2 separate regions of the Homo sapiens genome follow, and region 1 is linked to region 2. The links come from fine-mapping of genetic effects on gene expression. Tissue or cell type: whole blood. Region 2 holds a variant in brackets; the other region holds the start of a gene. All regions are shown on one strand. Distances are from middle to middle.

What was found. PIP is the estimated chance that this variant, and not a neighbour inherited with it, causes the effect.
Region 1: CSNK1E starts here. The variant in region 2 is fine-mapped to the expression of CSNK1E in whole blood (INTERVAL, PIP above 0.99).

What each region holds. Positions count from the first base shown.
Region 1 is chr22:38,313,646-38,321,746 of GRCh38, reverse strand. CSNK1E (casein kinase 1 epsilon) reads left to right here and starts at 4,314. Exons shown (of 11, transcript NM_152221.3): 1 at 4,314-4,587; 2 at 7,578-7,665. The coding sequence starts at 7,590. It overlaps TPTEP2-CSNK1E (TPTEP2-CSNK1E readthrough), which reads left to right. Exons shown (of 15, transcript NM_001289912.2): 6 at 7,578-7,665. The coding sequence starts at 7,590. RefSeq lists enhancers at 1,970-2,874, 6,676-6,725, 6,746-6,915, 6,986-7,045 and a silencer at 4,597-4,986.
Region 2 is chr22:38,415,780-38,423,880 of GRCh38, reverse strand. LOC105373030 (a long non-coding RNA gene) reads left to right here. Exons shown (of 5, transcript XR_938254.4): 1 at 1-39; 2 at 703-922; 3 at 5,715-5,865; 4 at 6,899-7,001. Among named protein-coding and RNA genes, the nearest start is that of TPTEP2-CSNK1E, 21 kb to the right of the region's middle. RefSeq lists an enhancer at 5,826-6,325. The variant C/T (reference allele first, on the strand shown) is at 4,547.

The sequences.
Region 1 (8,101 bases), 100 kb after region 2:
TCCAGGCTGGTCTCAAACTCCTGAGCTCAAGCAACGCCTGCCTCTGCCTCCCAAAGTTCTGGGATTACAGGTGTGAGGCACCGCCTGTGGCCCAGCGCCAGGATTTTAAATTGGGAGACTGGGCCCAGACGTGGTGGCTCACACCTGTAATCCCAGCTTTTTGGGAGGCTGAGGCGGACGGATCACCTGAGGTCAGGAGTTTAAGACCAGCCTGGGTAACATGGTGACACCTCCATCTCTACTAAAAATACAAAAATTAGCCAGGTATGGTGGTGGACGCCTGTAATCCCAGCTACTCTGGAGGCTGAGGCAGGAGAATTGCTTGAACCCGGGAGGCGGAGGTTGCAGTGAGCCGAGATCGGGCCACTGCATTCCAGCCTGGGAGACAGAGCCAGACTCTGTCTCAAAAAATAAATAAATAAATAAACTGGGAGACCAGGAGGGCCTACCTCTGAAGGGGACTTGAGAAAGGTGAGAGGTGAGGGGGGTTGGTGCTCTGCGGGAAGAGCGCACCAGGCAGTGGAAACAGCCCCTGCCAAGGCCCTGAGGCCAGAGGTTCATTCCATGGGAGGCCAGTGAGGCTACAGGGCTGTGAGCAAGAAGAAAACTTACAGGAGCTGAGGTCAGGAGAGCCAGGTGCGGGGAGTGGAGGACAGATCCTGGAGGGCCGTTTTCAGGCCAGCCCTTGATGTTTAGTAAATCTATGAGTCCTTAGTCAAGACTGAGATTCCTGGGGCAGGTACTGAAATCTTTCTGGGTTTATCTGCAGCCATATCGTCATTATCTGGGAATTCCAGGGCTGTCCTTGGGATCCCAGCCCAGTGCTCCTGCGTGCCAAGTGATCTTGAAGGGTCTGAAATAGGGAGCAGGTAAAAAATGTCAGTTTGGGAACACAGTGGCTCACACTTGTAATCACAGCACTTTGGGAGGGCGAGGCAGAAGGGTCACTTGAGCCCAGGAGTTTCAGACCAGTCTGGGCAACACAGTAAGACCCCATCTCTATAAAAAATTTAAAAATTAGCTGGGTGTGGTGGTGCATGCCTGTAGTCCCAGCTACTTGGAAGGCTGAGGCAGGAGGATCGCTTGAGCCCAGGAATTTGAGGCTACAGCGAGGTATGATCCTGCCACTGCACTCCAGCCTGGGTGACAGAATGAGCCTCTAAAAAAAAGACAAAAGCCAGTTTGGAAAGGTGTTGTGAGAGCCACTATTCCTGAACCAATGCAGAGCAGCTGAAACCCAGGGTGGGCCCCTTGGGAGCTGGCAATTCACCCCACACCTATTCTAGCCTGATTTCATCTTCTTGTTGGCTTGCAGAGAAGGTAGCTAGGGGAACTTTGCCACACCCTTGGGTTTTTTGTTTTGTTTTGTTTTTTATTTATTTTTTTGAGACGGAGTCTCGCTCTGTCGCCCAAGCTAGAGTGCAATGGTACGATCTCGGCTCACTGCAACCTCCGCCTCCTGGGTTCAAGTGATTCTCCTGCCTCAGCCTCCCGAGTGGCTGGGATTACAGGTGCCCGCCATCGTGCCCAGCTAATTTTTTGTATTTTTAGTAGAAACGGGGTTTCACCGTGTTGGCCAGGCTGGTCTTGAACTCCTGACCTCAGGTGATCACCCGCCTTGGCCTCTGAAGTGCTGGGATTACAGGGGCGTGCCCGGCCCCACCGTTGGGTTTTAAAGTTAGGAGTTAAATCTGAGAGGAATCACTGTGAACCAAGTCGGAGAGAGAAGTCAGGCTGTGGGGCTGCTGGAACACGTAAGGTTTTGTTTTTCACTTTGGACCAGTCTCCCCTCCTCAGCTGGGTTTTGTGTCATGGTTTGCCTTCCCTTATAGCTTCACTGCAAAGCTCTTTGGAAGGGCCCACACACAGGTCTTCCAGGGATAGGAAGGACAAGGACTTGGGCCCACAACTCAGGCAGTGGACAACAGCATGTCCTTCCAATGGCAAGGCAGGGAGGCTCCCTAGCAGGCCTGGGGATGAGCCGGGCTCCTCAGCCTGGCTGGCCCAGGGAACTGAGCAGGATCTTAACTGGGGCAGGGGGTGGGGTGGGGGTGCTGGGGTGGGAGGTGTGGTTACAAGTCCTGAATGCAGAGGGGAGAACGTGAACGTGCTGCAGTCAGACCTGGCGATCTGGCTGGGTTAGGAAGGGGCAGGGGGTCTGTTCCAGCCAGGCCCAGTTTAAGGGAGAGGTTGATCTGTGCCCTTAGGCAAGCACTGGGAGGAGCCTGATTCCTTCTCTGAAAGAATACAGTGTAATCTGTTGTTGTTTGAGAGGATTAAATGAGATAACAAATAACCTCCTCTCCCAGGGCTGGTTGCCTTGAAAGTGCTGAAGAAGAGGAGGGCTTTGGGAAGCAGGGCCCAGGTTGGAAGGTTAGGGGTGGTAAGGACTGGAGGACACAGGGGCAGACTTCACCCCCTGCTCAATTGTGCCCAGGCCTCTCTGCCTGGGCTCATGTGAGGAAAGAAACAAAATGGGTGGCGGTGGGGTGGCGCTCAGGCCGGCTGAGAACTTGGGCCCAGAGTTACCGGATCTCCTAATGCCCCCAGAGAAACAGGGAATCTGGATCTGAAATATGAAATCTTCCAGTTTTAAAACTTTGGGGAGTGGCCAGGCATGGTGGCTCACGCCTATAATCCCAGCAGTTTGGGAGGCCGAGGCAGGCGGATCACTTGAGGTCAGGAGTTCCAGCCCAGCCTGGCCAACCCCGTCTCTACTAAAAATACTGTGTGGTCCTGGGCAAAAATTAGCCAGGTGTGGTGGTGCACATCTGTAATTCCAGCTATTCAGGAGGGAGGCTGAGGCTGGAGAATCACTTGAACCCAGGAGGCAGAGGTTGCAGTGAGCCGATATTGAGCCACTGCACTCCAGCCTGAGCCACACAGCGAGACTCTATCTCAAAACCAACAAAAACAAAAAGCAAAAAAAAAAAAAAAAACTTTGGGGATTAATTAACAAAACAACAACAGAAAGCACCGCGCAGGCCAAGTAAAGCCCACCACCTGGCTGGTGACCCCCTGCTCTGGCAAAGGTGTCACTGAAGGCAGGCCCTCCTGGGAGGAGGCTTCTCACTCTCCTGCTCTTGGAAATGGGCTCTAGATAGACCCAGTTTCCTGGTGATCGCTGGGAGAACAGAGCTGTCCTGTTGGGCTTTGTGGTCCTGGGCAAAGCCCTTCCCCTCTCTGGGCCAGTTTCCTGGCCGGCGAAAGGACTTAGTCTGTGGGGCTCCTGCCCGTTTGGACACGTGTGTGACTCAGTCCCTCAGCCTCGAGGAGGGAAGATACGGCTATTATAGAAGTGACTCCTCCCAGGAACTGTGCTTCCGGGATTGGACGCAGGGCCTCAGGCATTTTGCGTGTCCACAGTCACAACTGTGTGAATATAGGTGTGTCATAATTGGAAGCTTTGCATGGCTCAGTGTAAATATCATCACTTTAATGACTTTGTTCTGCAACCTTTCATCGCGGCTCTGCATGCCGGTAGAAGCTTTTATTAATTCTGTGACCTGGGGAGGACAGGGTCCTTCCTCCCATTTGCTGTTTAAGGAAACCCAAGCTCAGAGCTGGGAGGTGGCTTGGCTAAACGTGCACCACTCGGAGCCCAGACTCAAGTGTCGGTGCTTTGGTACTTGTGGCACCCCTCCTTCAACAGGGGAGAATGAGGTTGGGATCTGAGGGGTCCTCTCTGTGCCCATCACAGTTTGAGCTTCAGGGAAAAGAAGAAGAGGTCTTTGCCCTTCGTTTTTCCACGGGAGGAGAATGTATGAGCCCAGGCTACCTTTCTGGGCCTTGTGTCGACATCCCTAGCTGTCTCCTCAAATCTCTTGCCCTGAATCAACCTGGCCTGTGTTCTCTGCGGCACTCGGAACCTGGAGGCGGACTGAGCCTCCAGCAGTCTAACATCTTTTGCAGTGTCGTGAATAGCCGCCTGTTTTCGCAGGGGCCCAGTGCTCTGCCTGGAGAGGAGAGAGATCCTGGCAGGCGGGGAGAGGAGACTTTGGGTCTAGACCCTCCCCTCCCATCCCCTCACCTCCGCTTTTTGTGCGCCCTCCTCTTCCCTCTGTCCCCCCCGCACCCCGTCTTTTCCACCTGTGCCCTGGACTGCATTAGGGTGTCAGTATCTGTGTGCTCCCCCACCCCCACGCGTAAGCCCGCGCGCCTGCACTGAGGCTGGGGAACTGCGTCTCGCAGCTGCGGCCCCCAGCGCGGAGGGCGCGGGCCCTTTAAATCCTCCGGGGCGGCGGCGGCGGGCCGGGGATGACATCAGCGGGCGGGCCCGGGGCTCAATGGGAGCCGGCGGGCGCGCGCGGTGCGAGAGCGCGCGAGCCGGCGGCGGGGGCGGGCGGGCGGGCAGGAGGCCGGGAGGAGGGAGGCGGCGGCGGCGGCGGCGGCGGCGGCGAGAGCCCAGAGCCAGAGCCCGGCCGGGGCCGAGCGGAGCGCGGCGGCGGCGGCGGCGGCGGCGGCTGGGCCGGGAGAGGCTGGCGCGCCGGGCGGCTCCGCGAATCCTCCGGCATCCGCCCCGGCGGGCCGCCCCCGCCCGCGGCAGCCCCCCGAGCAGTGGCCCGGCATCGGCGCCTTCCCGGCGGGGTAAATATCGGGGGGCCGCGGGCCCGCGGAAGGGTGCAAACCTGGGGGGAATCGGGCTCCCTCAGCCTCTTTGTTTTTGCTGGAGAGGGAGGGAAGGGAGGGCAGACACACGCGCGTTCGCGCTGGGGTGTAGGGGGGGCAGCCCGGGCGCCGCCCGCTCGGCCCGGCGAGGACAAAGGCGCGGCTGGGGACGAGGAGGAGGGGGCCTGTTATTTTGCAGGCTCGCGGGGGAGGCCCCCCGGCCGGCCTGCCTCCGCTTCCCCCCGCTGGGCCCTCCGAGGCCCCGGCCGGCCAGGCGGCCACCCCGGCTGTGATTTGGGGACGCTGAGGGAGGGGGCTTGGGGTGCTGGGCGCCGGATACTGTTGATTCGGGCCCGCGTAGCGTTTCATCGGACAATCACCGGCGCCCCCTGCTCTCCCGGCCCCGGCGCCCGGACCTGGGGGTTCGCAAGGCTGCGCCCGCTCGTTGGATGACGGGCGTTTGGGGGTCCTAAGGTGAAGAGGTGTGTGGTCACCAGGCCACTGATTTGTTTTTCTTTGTGGAGAGAAAGAAAGGGGTGGGGGTTATTTGTCGGATCGGATTCTCCCATTTTTGTGTGAGAGATTGATGTCTTGCAAGTCTCTAAGGAACGCAAAACAGTGTCTGGGTGTCGTTAGAGGATTCCCAAGCTCTTGTTAATACCCTAACTCGAAGTGGGGTGAGCCCCCTCCCCAACTTTTCCCTTAGTTTTCTTGCATATTTTCTTCCTGGCATAGCCTCCTTCCTGGAGAAGGATTTGGAGAGAGGAGAAGGGGACACAAGTGTCTCAAGTTGCTTCCAAGCAATGCCTGTGTTTGGGTCTCCTTTGCCTTCGTTTCTATGATGTCCCTTCAATTTTTATTTTAATCGTCCGAGGGACAAGGGCCCCGGCTCAGGGGTAGGCGATGGTGTTCGGGGAGTAAGAAGCACTGCCCGTGTGCCATGCTGGTTGGTAGTTTGTCTAATTTTTTTAACCTGCTGAAACTCTTGAACCTTTATATCCACTTTTCCCCCCACTTTGTTTATCTCCCCCCCTCCCCCATGGGAGAAGCAGCAAAAGAACTGAAAAGCCTCTCCATTCCTGAATGAAGCTTTTCTGCTCTCCTCTGGGAGGCTTTTTGGGTATTGGTGCCGGGACAGTCTAGGCTCCCCCAGGGACCTTGGACCCCTGGGGTGTTGGGGAGCGACTGGGGGTCTGGGTGGCTGGCACATAGCAGTCAGGGGGTCCTGAAGGGCTTGCCCCTTCCCGCTCTCGTTCTCTGCAGACAGCCGGTGAGTGGGGAGAGACTGGGGGGTCATGTGCAGTATATTTATGTAAGACACCCAGACAGAGGGCACGGGTATTTATATAACCCGGCGTGGGTATTTATGTAATATAGGATGCGGGTATATTTATGTTCCTTTCCTAACCTGCGGGTTTCCTGGCTGCCATGTGTGGTCTCTGAATTGGTGTTGGCAGAAAGTGGACTGAGGTGTTGGGGGGGGGTTGCGTGCACACCCCCCCTTACCCCCCAACAGGGCTCACTGTGTGTGCCTGCTTTTCTTTCTTCCGTTGGAGTGTACACACTCGGGAAGCTGGACGTGTGTGTACGTGGGATGTGTGGCGTGTGGGTTTCCTGCAAACGTGGACTGTGTTCCCCTGGCAGCGTGGCACCTCAGCTGAGACAGGCCAAGCATATGGGCAGCGGCCCTTGATTGAGAGCCCAGAGTTTGGCCAGCTCTGGTGGAGGTCCCTGCCTCGTGGTTATTGGTGGAGGGCTGGTGAGCTCCTTGGGAGCCAGGTGCCGGGGTTCCCTGTCTCTCCTGGGATCTGCCCACTGTCCCTGGAATCCATCTCCCTCCCAGGCTGGCCTGGTTGTTGGGGGCAGCACTTGGCACGGGCAAGGGGCTGATCTTCTGTGCCAGCACAGCTGCTCTGCAGTCTTCCTGTTTTGCCCTGTTTGTGAGTGTGGGAGACCACCAGGTGGGACAGCCGGAGCCCTGTCCTCGGCGAGGCTGTACCATCTGCAGGGTGGTGTGGGACAGGTGGCATGGCCTCTGTGAGCCTGAGTACCCTGTCTGTGAAAGGAGTTCCCTCTTGCTAGTCCTTGATGCTGGTCCTCTTGTAAACACCCCTCCCCCTGTTTACTGCAGTCCCTGGTCCCTGTCCCCACGGCAGCACTGCCTCCAGGCCTTCAGTTTCCTCCTCTGCTGACCAGGAACAGGGTGTCCGGACTTTTGCCCCAGGCCAGAGCAGAGGGGTCCCTCCTCTGCCCCAGGCCAGAGCAGAGGGCTCCCCCCTGGCCCTGAGGAAGGAGAGAAGCTGCTCACATCAGAACTCCTCCTCCCACCCATCCGGGGCAGGCGGCTAAAACCCTGGCTCAGTCCCCTTTGTTGTTCTATGAGGGCCCTCTTAGGAGACCCTCCTAGTCTTAAAGGACGCCAGCTCCAAACAGTTTATCCAAGCGGCTATGGGCCTCCGTGTGAGGTCTTGGTGTCATGACGTAGAGATGGGGAGGTGGCTGGAAGGTGGATGGTCGAGGGCATTCTTTTCTGCCTTCCCCCCAGTAGGGGATGCGACTTTCTCCTGCAAGGCGTGCTGGGCACTGGCGAGGTCTGGCCTCTGGGCAGGGGCAGTACTTGGGAAGACCAGGCCAGGCTGTGGGAGCCTGGGGGGTAGGAGGTGTAAGAGGGCTGATGCCCGTTGTGATCCCTTGAGAAGCTTCTTTTGAGGGGCCCCTGAATGAGCATCCCCCAAAGACATGCTTGCTTGGCTGCTTCCTCTCTGGCCACACTGAAACCTGTCCTCAGCCTGCCTTAGCTGTTCCCCAGGTGTGTGGAGTGCAGGCTGTGGGCCACCTGACACCTGCAGAATGTGGTCTTCGAGAATGCAGGTTTTCGAGTTCCTGGTGGCTCTGCCTGGCCTTGGTGGACTGGACCCCTTTCCCGGCTCCCCACGTCGCTGACCCTCATGTTCCTGCTTCCTCTGCAGCAAGAGTGAGCCATGGAGCTACGTGTGGGGAACAAGTACCGCCTGGGACGGAAGATCGGGAGCGGGTCCTTCGGAGATATCTACCTGGGTAAGTGTTCCTAGCTCCAGCTGGAGCCCCTGGGGCCAGCCCATGGGACCAAGAGGAGGAAAGACCCCAGGATTTGGGGATCTGAAGTCAGAATGTGGCTCCAGGGGCATGATTTGCCCCAGGGCCATCCCAGATGGGGAAGGAAGCAGCAGGTTGCCGGGAGGCAGGCCAGGGGGCTCCTCTCGCAGGCCAGGCTGGGCACTGGAGGGTATTTTTAGCTCCAGTTTCTGCAGGAGTCATGCGGTTCTTTTGTGCCTCAGTGTCCCGGGTCAGCTGGGTCACCAGCTGGGTGTGGGAAAACCCAGGCGGGGTTCACATCCTCTCCCCTGCTTCCTGGGAGAAGGATATTGGTAGATAGAAGGGACTTGGGTTGCTGCTGGACCCCTAGCCAGGCCCCCCTCTCTATGTCCTGGCCTCCTGGAACCCAGCCCAGGCA
Region 2 (8,101 bases):
GCCCACATTCTGGAAGGACCCCTGGTCCCCTTCTGTCAGGTGAGTACCCCAGGGTCTCAATCCTGACCCTGGAGGCTCATGAGAGATGTCCCTCTATCCAGCCCTGCAGGCCCTGGGTGGGTCTCGCCAGGTCTCCCCACTCCTCCCACCACATCCCCAGGATGCCACGGCTTCCTGGGCTACGAGCAGTAACTGAAGAGGATTCAGGCTCAGGTGCTCCCAGACTCAGAAGCCTCCACCTAGAGCACGTCTTAGGGGATGTCTACCCTCCTCTAAGATGTGCGAGAGGCCCGGATGCAGGGTGGGGAAGGGGTACATGTGGGGTTACCCCCAAGAGGGCCCATCATCCACCATCCAGAGCAACATGGGGCGTTCCAAGGTCCCCCCAGGCCCTTCACCAGCTTGCAGCTTGCTCATATGCTTGTGGTAGTTGCTCTTTTGGGAGAGGCCTGGTCTCTCTGGTCACATGCAAGGTGACCTGTGGCAGGGTCACACAGAAGAGGCAAGTGAAAGCCCAAAGCCAGGACTTCTGGAGTGCCAAAGGGCAGTGCCAGTGTGGGCACTGGGGGAGGGGGCCACGCGGTGCCGAGAGCCCGCAGCTGCAGGGAGGCTCCCAGGCCTGGCTGCGCTGCAAACTCCTGCTGGCTCAGCTCTGCTCGGGGCTGACTCACCTTCCCTCTCCCACCTGTTCCCCTTTCACAGCCCTCCCACCTGCCTCCCTCCTCGTGCCGCTCCTCTGATCCCTCACTCCACTCCGGCTCCTGCGGCGCTGACGGAGCGGGGTGGGGGGAGTTGCTGCGTCTGGGGGTGTAAGAACCTTAGATGTCACGGAGCTTGGAATTGTGCCAACGGGCAGGCTGAAGGGGCCTTAAAGTGCTGCCAAGCCCTCCTCATGCCACACCAGCTTCCCTGCAGAGCCAGGGTAAGGAGACCCCCTCTGCCCTGCCCTGCCCTCTCTTCCCCACTTCGGTCACAGCCTCTTGGGGAGCAGGAGTGGTGGGCAGGATGGAGAGAATGAAGAGGGTATCATGCATGTGGAAGAAAAGGAGGAAGACAGGGAGGGAGGAAGAGGAAGAAAGGGAGGAAGACAAGGAAGGAGGAAGAGGAAGAAAGGGAGGAAGACAGGGAGGGGGGAAGAGGGCGGATCTAATGGGAGCAAAAAACCCCGCCCTCATCTGGCCACACCTGCCTGCCTGCCTGGAATTCCACGGTTCAGGCCTAATCCTTGTAGATTCACCATGGCTTCCTTCCCACCAGCTTCTGGAAGATTTATCTTCCTTATGAACTCAAATAGCTCACAGAAGAATAGAAAAGAACTTAGGAGGCATCCGACTCAGCTATTTCACCTCATTGCGTTCACCCCTGTCTTTGTTAGAGCCCATGGCTGCGATCAGATGACTGCTTCCTGCGTCTAGCTTTTCTCATTGCAGTTTTTTCCAGGTATTGACTTTTCTGGGTATTGATGGATTCTACATCTTTTCAATTTTTTTTTTTTTTTTTTTGAGATGGAGTCTCGCTGTGTTGCCCAGGCTGGAGTGCAATGGCGCAATCTCGGCTCACCACAACCTCTGCCTTCTGGGTTCAAGAGATTCTCCTGGCCAGGCGTGGTGGCTCACACCTGTAATCCCAGCACTTTGGGAGGCCAAGGTGGGCAGATCACCTGAGGTTGGGAGTTCGAGACCAGCCTGACCAACATGGAGAAACCCTGTCTCTACTAAAAATACAAAATTAGCCAGGCATGGTGGCACATGCCTGTAATCCCAGCTACTTGGGAGGCTGAGGCAGGAGAATCGCTTGAACCCGGGGGGGCAGAGGTTGAAGTGAGCCGAGATCATGCCATTGTACTCCAGCCTGGGCAACAAGAGTGAAACACCATCTCAAAAAAAAAAAAAAAAAAAAAATAGATTCTCCTGCCTCAGCCTCCCGAGTAGTTGGGATTACAGGTGTGCACCACCATGCCTGGATAATTTTTTGTATTTTTAGTAGAGACGGGGTTATGTTGGCGAGGCCAGTCTGGAACTCCTGACCTTGTGATCCGCCCTCAGCCTCCCAAAGTGCTGGGATTACAGATGTGAGCCACTGCGCCCGGCCTTCAATTTTTAATGACTATAGAATGTTCATCAAATTATAGAAGATCAAAAATTATACACCATTATGGATCATCAAGGCAACCCCTCATTTACAGATAGAGAAACTGAGACCTGGAGCAACGCAGTGATGAACATCTTTGTTCACTATTTTTTCTTCTTGTGCCTGTTTGCATAAGCTGAGTACAAGGTTCAAAAGCTAACAGAATTCTGGGCTCTGTCTGGCAGGCTGTAGAAATGCACCCTTCAGCCTTTGAATCTTCCTACAAGGACGATGTAGACCTGGGTCCCAGGAATTGGAAAGCGAAGGAGCTTTAAATCCAATATCCTGGCCAGGCACGGTGGCTCATGCCTATAATCCCAGCACTTTGGGAGGCCGAGGTGTGTGAATCACAAGGTCAGGAGTTCAAGACCAGCCTGGCCAACATGGCGAAACCCTTTCTCTACTGAAAATACAAAAATTAGCCGGGCGTGGTGGCGTGGGCTTGTAATCCCAGCTACTCAGGAGGCTGAGGCAGAGAATTGCTTGAACCCGGGAGGCAGAGGTTGCAAAGAACTGAGATCATGCCACTGCACTCCAGCCTGTGTGACAGAGTGAGATTCTGTCTCAAAAATAAATAAATAAATAACCAATATTCCCCTTCACAGCCACGAAAGGGGCTCCTAGTCAAGAGAGTGAATGAAGATGAGGAAGAATGGCAGGCAATGGGCACAATAATGAGACCAGGGCATGGGGCCGAGAGCACTGGCCTCTATGTGCCTATTCACAGAGAGGAAAGATCACGGGTATCAGAGCCAGAGGGTCCTAGATTTGAATCCTGCCTTTACCACTTACTAGCTGTGCAACTTTGGGCAAGTTAATTGATGTCTCTGAGCCTGTTTCCTTATCTGAAAGAGCCATTCATATCTATCTCACATGCTTGCTGTGTGCGTTAAATGAGATCCCATATGTGACCAGGCATGGCATGGTGTCAGGTACATTACTGGACCTAAATAAATACGAATTGCCTTCTGGAAGGGATTTGGATTGGCTTACAATATAAGACACACAATTTGAAAATGGACCTCTGAGCTACCTGGCAGCCATGGAAAAAGGGACACCTGATGGTTACTTTGCTCTCAGTCTATGAAAACTGGAAGGCTAGAGAGAGAGCTTGGGTTTGACCACTGTGTGATCTTGGGTGTTCTCTTCTCTTTCCTGGGCCTCATTTTCCCCATCTTCAAAGTTAGGAGCTAGGCCAGGTGCAGTGGCTCACGCCTGTAATCCCAGCACTTTGATCCCAAGGTGGGTGGATCACCTTAGGTCAGGAGCTCGAGACCAGCCTGATCAACATGGTAAAACCCCATCTCTACTAAAAATACAAAAATTAGCCAGGCATGGTGGTGAACACCTGCAGTCCCAGCTACTCAGGAGGTTGAGACACGAGAATCACTTGAACCCGGGAGGCGGAGGTTGCAGTGAGCTGAGATCATGCCACTGCACTCCAGCCTGGGCAACAGAGTGAGACTCGGTCTCAAAAAAAAAAAAAAAAGGAGCTGGGACCTGATGACCTCCAGGGTCCTGATGTGCCTGACCACCTAGGATTTTGTTCCTTTGGCCTTCAGAAGCTGGCAGGAGGTCTGGGGGAGAGGTGAGGACAGACAGAGATAGGCACTTAGCAAAATTGGCCAAGCCTAGCTTTGCCCCTCCCCCAATCACTGGCCACCCCTCACTCCACTTGCTGCCTGGAACCTGGCAGAACCTTCCCACACAGCCAGAAGCAAGTGCCTGGATCCTGGCCCTCAGCTCACACGCCGGCCCCACCCACCACAGATTCTAAAGGGCGTCTCAAGGTCACGCGATGAAAACCCGTTGAGCACCTTCTGTGAGTAAGGAAGGCCTGTTTTAGCAGAAACCGTTCAGCACTGAACCAAACCGACAAAGATGTAGCTGGGACCCCACCCTTCAGCCCTGTGCTGAGAGTCCTGAAGCCGGCCTCTGGCCTGGGCCCTGCCACCGACGCCAGGTGGGACCATGGGCAAACCCCTGCCGCTACCTGCTCAGGCTTGGGACAGCAGCCAGGGCTTCTTGGTCATGGTCGCTGGAGCCGTCCACTGCGGTTGCAGGGGCTTTGATAATGGGGCAAGTAAGCCAGAGCCCCTGCTGGGTGGAGGTTGCTTTCCGCTCTCACAGTGCCCACAGTGAGAAGGAGGCCAAGAAGAGACCTTTGGTTGTCCCCAGTTCAGAGGAAGAGAGGGGAGGGTGGGGGAATTAGCGACATCACACAGAGGAACAGCCACAGAGCCCTATCCAGAGCCAGGCTCCTGACCCTCCGCCTGTCACCAGGGTTACCTTCTGGGATGTGGCCCCTTGGGATGAGGGTCTGGAGGCCAGCACCTGCCCCTCTGGCCTCCTGGGGCTCCTGCTAAGCAGGGCAGAGGCTCAGCTCACTGTCCTCCCCTTGCTATCCCTGGAACGT[C/T]CCCCAGGCCTGTCTGAGCCCCTCCTGCCTCACCTCCCCCCGGGGCCTCTGTCTACACCTGGTGCAGGGCCTAAGGGTGAGTGCACACAGGCGGGAAGGGTTCAGGGAGAGGCGACAGAGCTGTGAGGATGGAAGGGATATTACACACTGATGTGGGAGGAGGTGACAGGGATAGGTTGTGACAGAGATGGGGAGAGAGAGGAGAAACACAGAAAGAGACACTGAGAGAGTCAGAGACAAAAAATGACAGAGAGACAAGGGCTGAGAGAGGGAGGCCTACTGAGGCCCAGGGGCCAAGAGTGAGCCCGAGGGAGGCAGAAGAGAACGCAAAACAGATCAAGCGGAGCTCCAGCAGAGGAGGCACCGGCTTGTGGGTCCGGAGACACCACACTGAGTCACAGGTGGACAGCAACAGGTGTCGGGGCACAGACGGAGGGGAAGTGACAGCCTCCCACCCACTACAAGGACTGGCATGTCTGTGGGGAAGCAGCTGGGTGCTCAGGGACCCCAGGATGGCAAAACCCTAGGCCCGCATGCAGCCAGGCAGAGAGGAAGGTGGGCATTAGAGAAAAGGAGCTAGGGCCAAAGAAGGGATGGCCCCGGGAGAAGGCCGGGGGCGCTGAGCGGTGCGGGAGCTGCACGGAAAAGCCAGAGGAGGCTAAGGAGATACAGAGACCAAGACAGCCCAGCAACTACAGCAGCGGCTGGAACCCAAATCGGGGAGATGAAGGCCAGGCACGGTGGCTCACACCTGTAATCCCAGCACTTTGGGAGGCCGAGGTGGGTGGATCACCTGAGGTCAGGAGTTTGAAACCAGCCTGGCCAACATGGTGAAACCCCGTCTGTACTAAAAATACAAAAAATTAGCCAGGTGTGGTGGCTATAATTCCAGCTACTTGGGAGGCTAAGGCAGAAGAATTGCTTGAACCTGGGAGGCAGAGGTTGCAGTGAGCCAAGATGGCACCACTGCACTCCAGCCTGGGCAACACAGTGAGACTCCATCTCAAAAAAAAAAAAAAAAAAAAAAAGGAGATGAAGAAAACCCAGAGGCTGGAGGGGACAGAGAAGCCCCGCTGCGTGCGTGTTGGGGGCAAAGGACAGGCCTGTTGCCAATGCCAGTTCCGCTTGGCAGCTGTGTGCCCCAAGCCTCCTATCTTCTTCTCTGCAGATGGGGACCCCGATGTCTGCCCTGTGGGCTGGAGCAGGCGGCGACTCTGTCCTGGCTGTGAGATCTCCTCCACCGCCCCTGACTCCTACCCTGTCAGGCCCACCCCCAGTCTCTTATCACCGCTGGAGGGGAATCTGAGCAATCCCCTACGGTAAGGGTCACAGTGAATGGTGCACTTTCCAGGTGATGGAGCCCCTTACTCTCTGATTTCCCATTTGACACCCCCCATCTGCCCTGTGAGGGGGGTTCTGTGATTCCCCCATTGTACAGATGAGGAGGCTCTGAGGGGTGACACGTCTTGCCCAAGGCTTTCTGGCCTTAAGGTTGAAGACTCTTCAGCCTCTGTACCCTGGCAGAGGTTGGCGGGGAGGCGAGTGAGGCTGAAGGGGGGTGCATGGCATGGGTGGGGCCGTACTGGGGGCTGGGCCAGGTGAGCAGGTGAGGACGACACACTAATGACCTGGGACCTTTTCCTGTAGGCAGTGGGGAGCTCTGGGCAGGCTGGGAGCAGAGGAGTGGGTGACGGAGGTGGCATTCAGGAGCTGCACGTGGCAGCTGAGTGGCCTGGAGCAGGGGCTGGGCAGGGATGGGAAGCCAGCAGGCCCGGGTGGGCAGAGTGGCAGCCTGGACGGGGCCAGCCTTCTCGCAGCCTCTGCCAGTCTCCAGGTGTCTGGGGCTGCTGTGGGACATTGAATGGGGCAGCAGGAATAGGGGGGCCACTTTTGGGGTTCCAAAACCAGTCAGGGAGGACCTGGGAAGCTGCCAGAGGCACCTCAGTGGGCAGGAGAGCGCGAGACAATGGAATGACTGGGAAATGGCAGGTGAGAGGAGGGAGGATATGGGCAATTGAGCATGGGGACGGCAAAGGTGGGGCCGTGGAGAGGATGGGCCAGGCTATTCACAGCCCAGTCACTGCAGGGAAGGACTGGGTGCGGAGGGGGCCGCAAATGGCCTTGCCACCTCCTGGCAGCCAAAGACCAGCTTGGGGTCAGGGGGGTAATGAAATCAGACTTCGACTTTGTGGCATCATGAAGGTGGCGGCAGAAGGGTGGGGCCTGGAGCCCGCAGCCTGGGTGAGGGGCCCAACCATGACCTCCCTCTCGGGTGGTCCTGGGCCCAGGGACTTCCTGGCCCTGGGCTTCAACTATAAAAAAGAGGCCATAACAACAGTCCCTCTCTCACAGGGGTGACAACCTGCAACTACATGGCATCGTGCACGTGGATCCACTGCAGCATGGAGCGGGGTCTGCATCAGGAAAGACACTCCTCCTCTTCCCCCGGCCGCAGGTGGGCCTCACTGAGAGACCTGGAGAATGGGTTTGCTGGGGAAGGCAGGCTTCGAAAGCCCCGGGTCATTGCAGCTGCCTCCCAGCCCAGCTCTCTGCCAGCCTCCCCGTGGGACATGTTATAAACATCAGAGTTGGATGGGCCTTGGCCAGGCACGGTGGCTCACTCACGCCTGTAATCCCAGCACTTTGGGCCACCGAGGCGGGTGAATCACCTTAGGTCAGGAGTTTGAGACCAGCCTGGCCAACATGGTGAAATCCTGTCTCTACTAAAAATACAAAAATTAGCTGGGCATGGTGGTGGGCGCCTGTAATCCCAGCTACTTGGGAGGCTGAGGCAAGAGAATCGCTTGAGCCTGGGAGGCAGAGGTTGCAGTGAGCCAAGATCGCGCTACTGCACTCCAGCCTGGGTGACAGAGCGAGCGGCCCCATCTCAAAAAAAAAAAAAAAAAGAAAAGTTGGATGGGTCTTTTGGGACTGTGGCCCGATCTCCTGGAAGTACGGATGGGGACACTGAGGCCCAGACAGGAAAGGGGTTTGCCTGCGTTTGGGCAGTAACTCAGACGCTCACCTGAGGCTGGAGCTTCCCAGGCCTGCCTTCTTGGCTTCAGGCCTGTCTGTGAGAAGGGGCGAGGCTGCAGCCTCCTGTGGGGCGGGACACAGGGCCTCACTGAGCCATCGCGCGTGCAGAGGGCCAGGCACCCGGCAGGTGGTCAGGAAACAGCTGCTCCTTCTGCCTGTGGAGGTCCCGCTCACGCCCACTGCTGGGGTTGGGATTACATCTCAGGCGTCATCCAGACCTGGCCAAATCCTGGCTCTGCCCCTTGCTACTGATTGACCTTGGAGAGGTGACTTGGCCTCTCTGAGCCTCATCTGTAACATGGGGAAGCCCCAGCTCCCACCTCACACCGCTGCCCTGAGGACGGAGGGAGATGATGTCTGTGGGCCAGGCCCCCAGCCCCTCAGCCCCTCAGCAGCCACGGTCCTCTCCCACTCCTTGGCCCGCACCCTCTGCCTCAGGCCGCACCCATAAGGCCCACCCCCTGCCACTCCGGCATAGGGGAGGGCCTGCCCTGGTAGAGGCTGAAGCAACTTCTCACT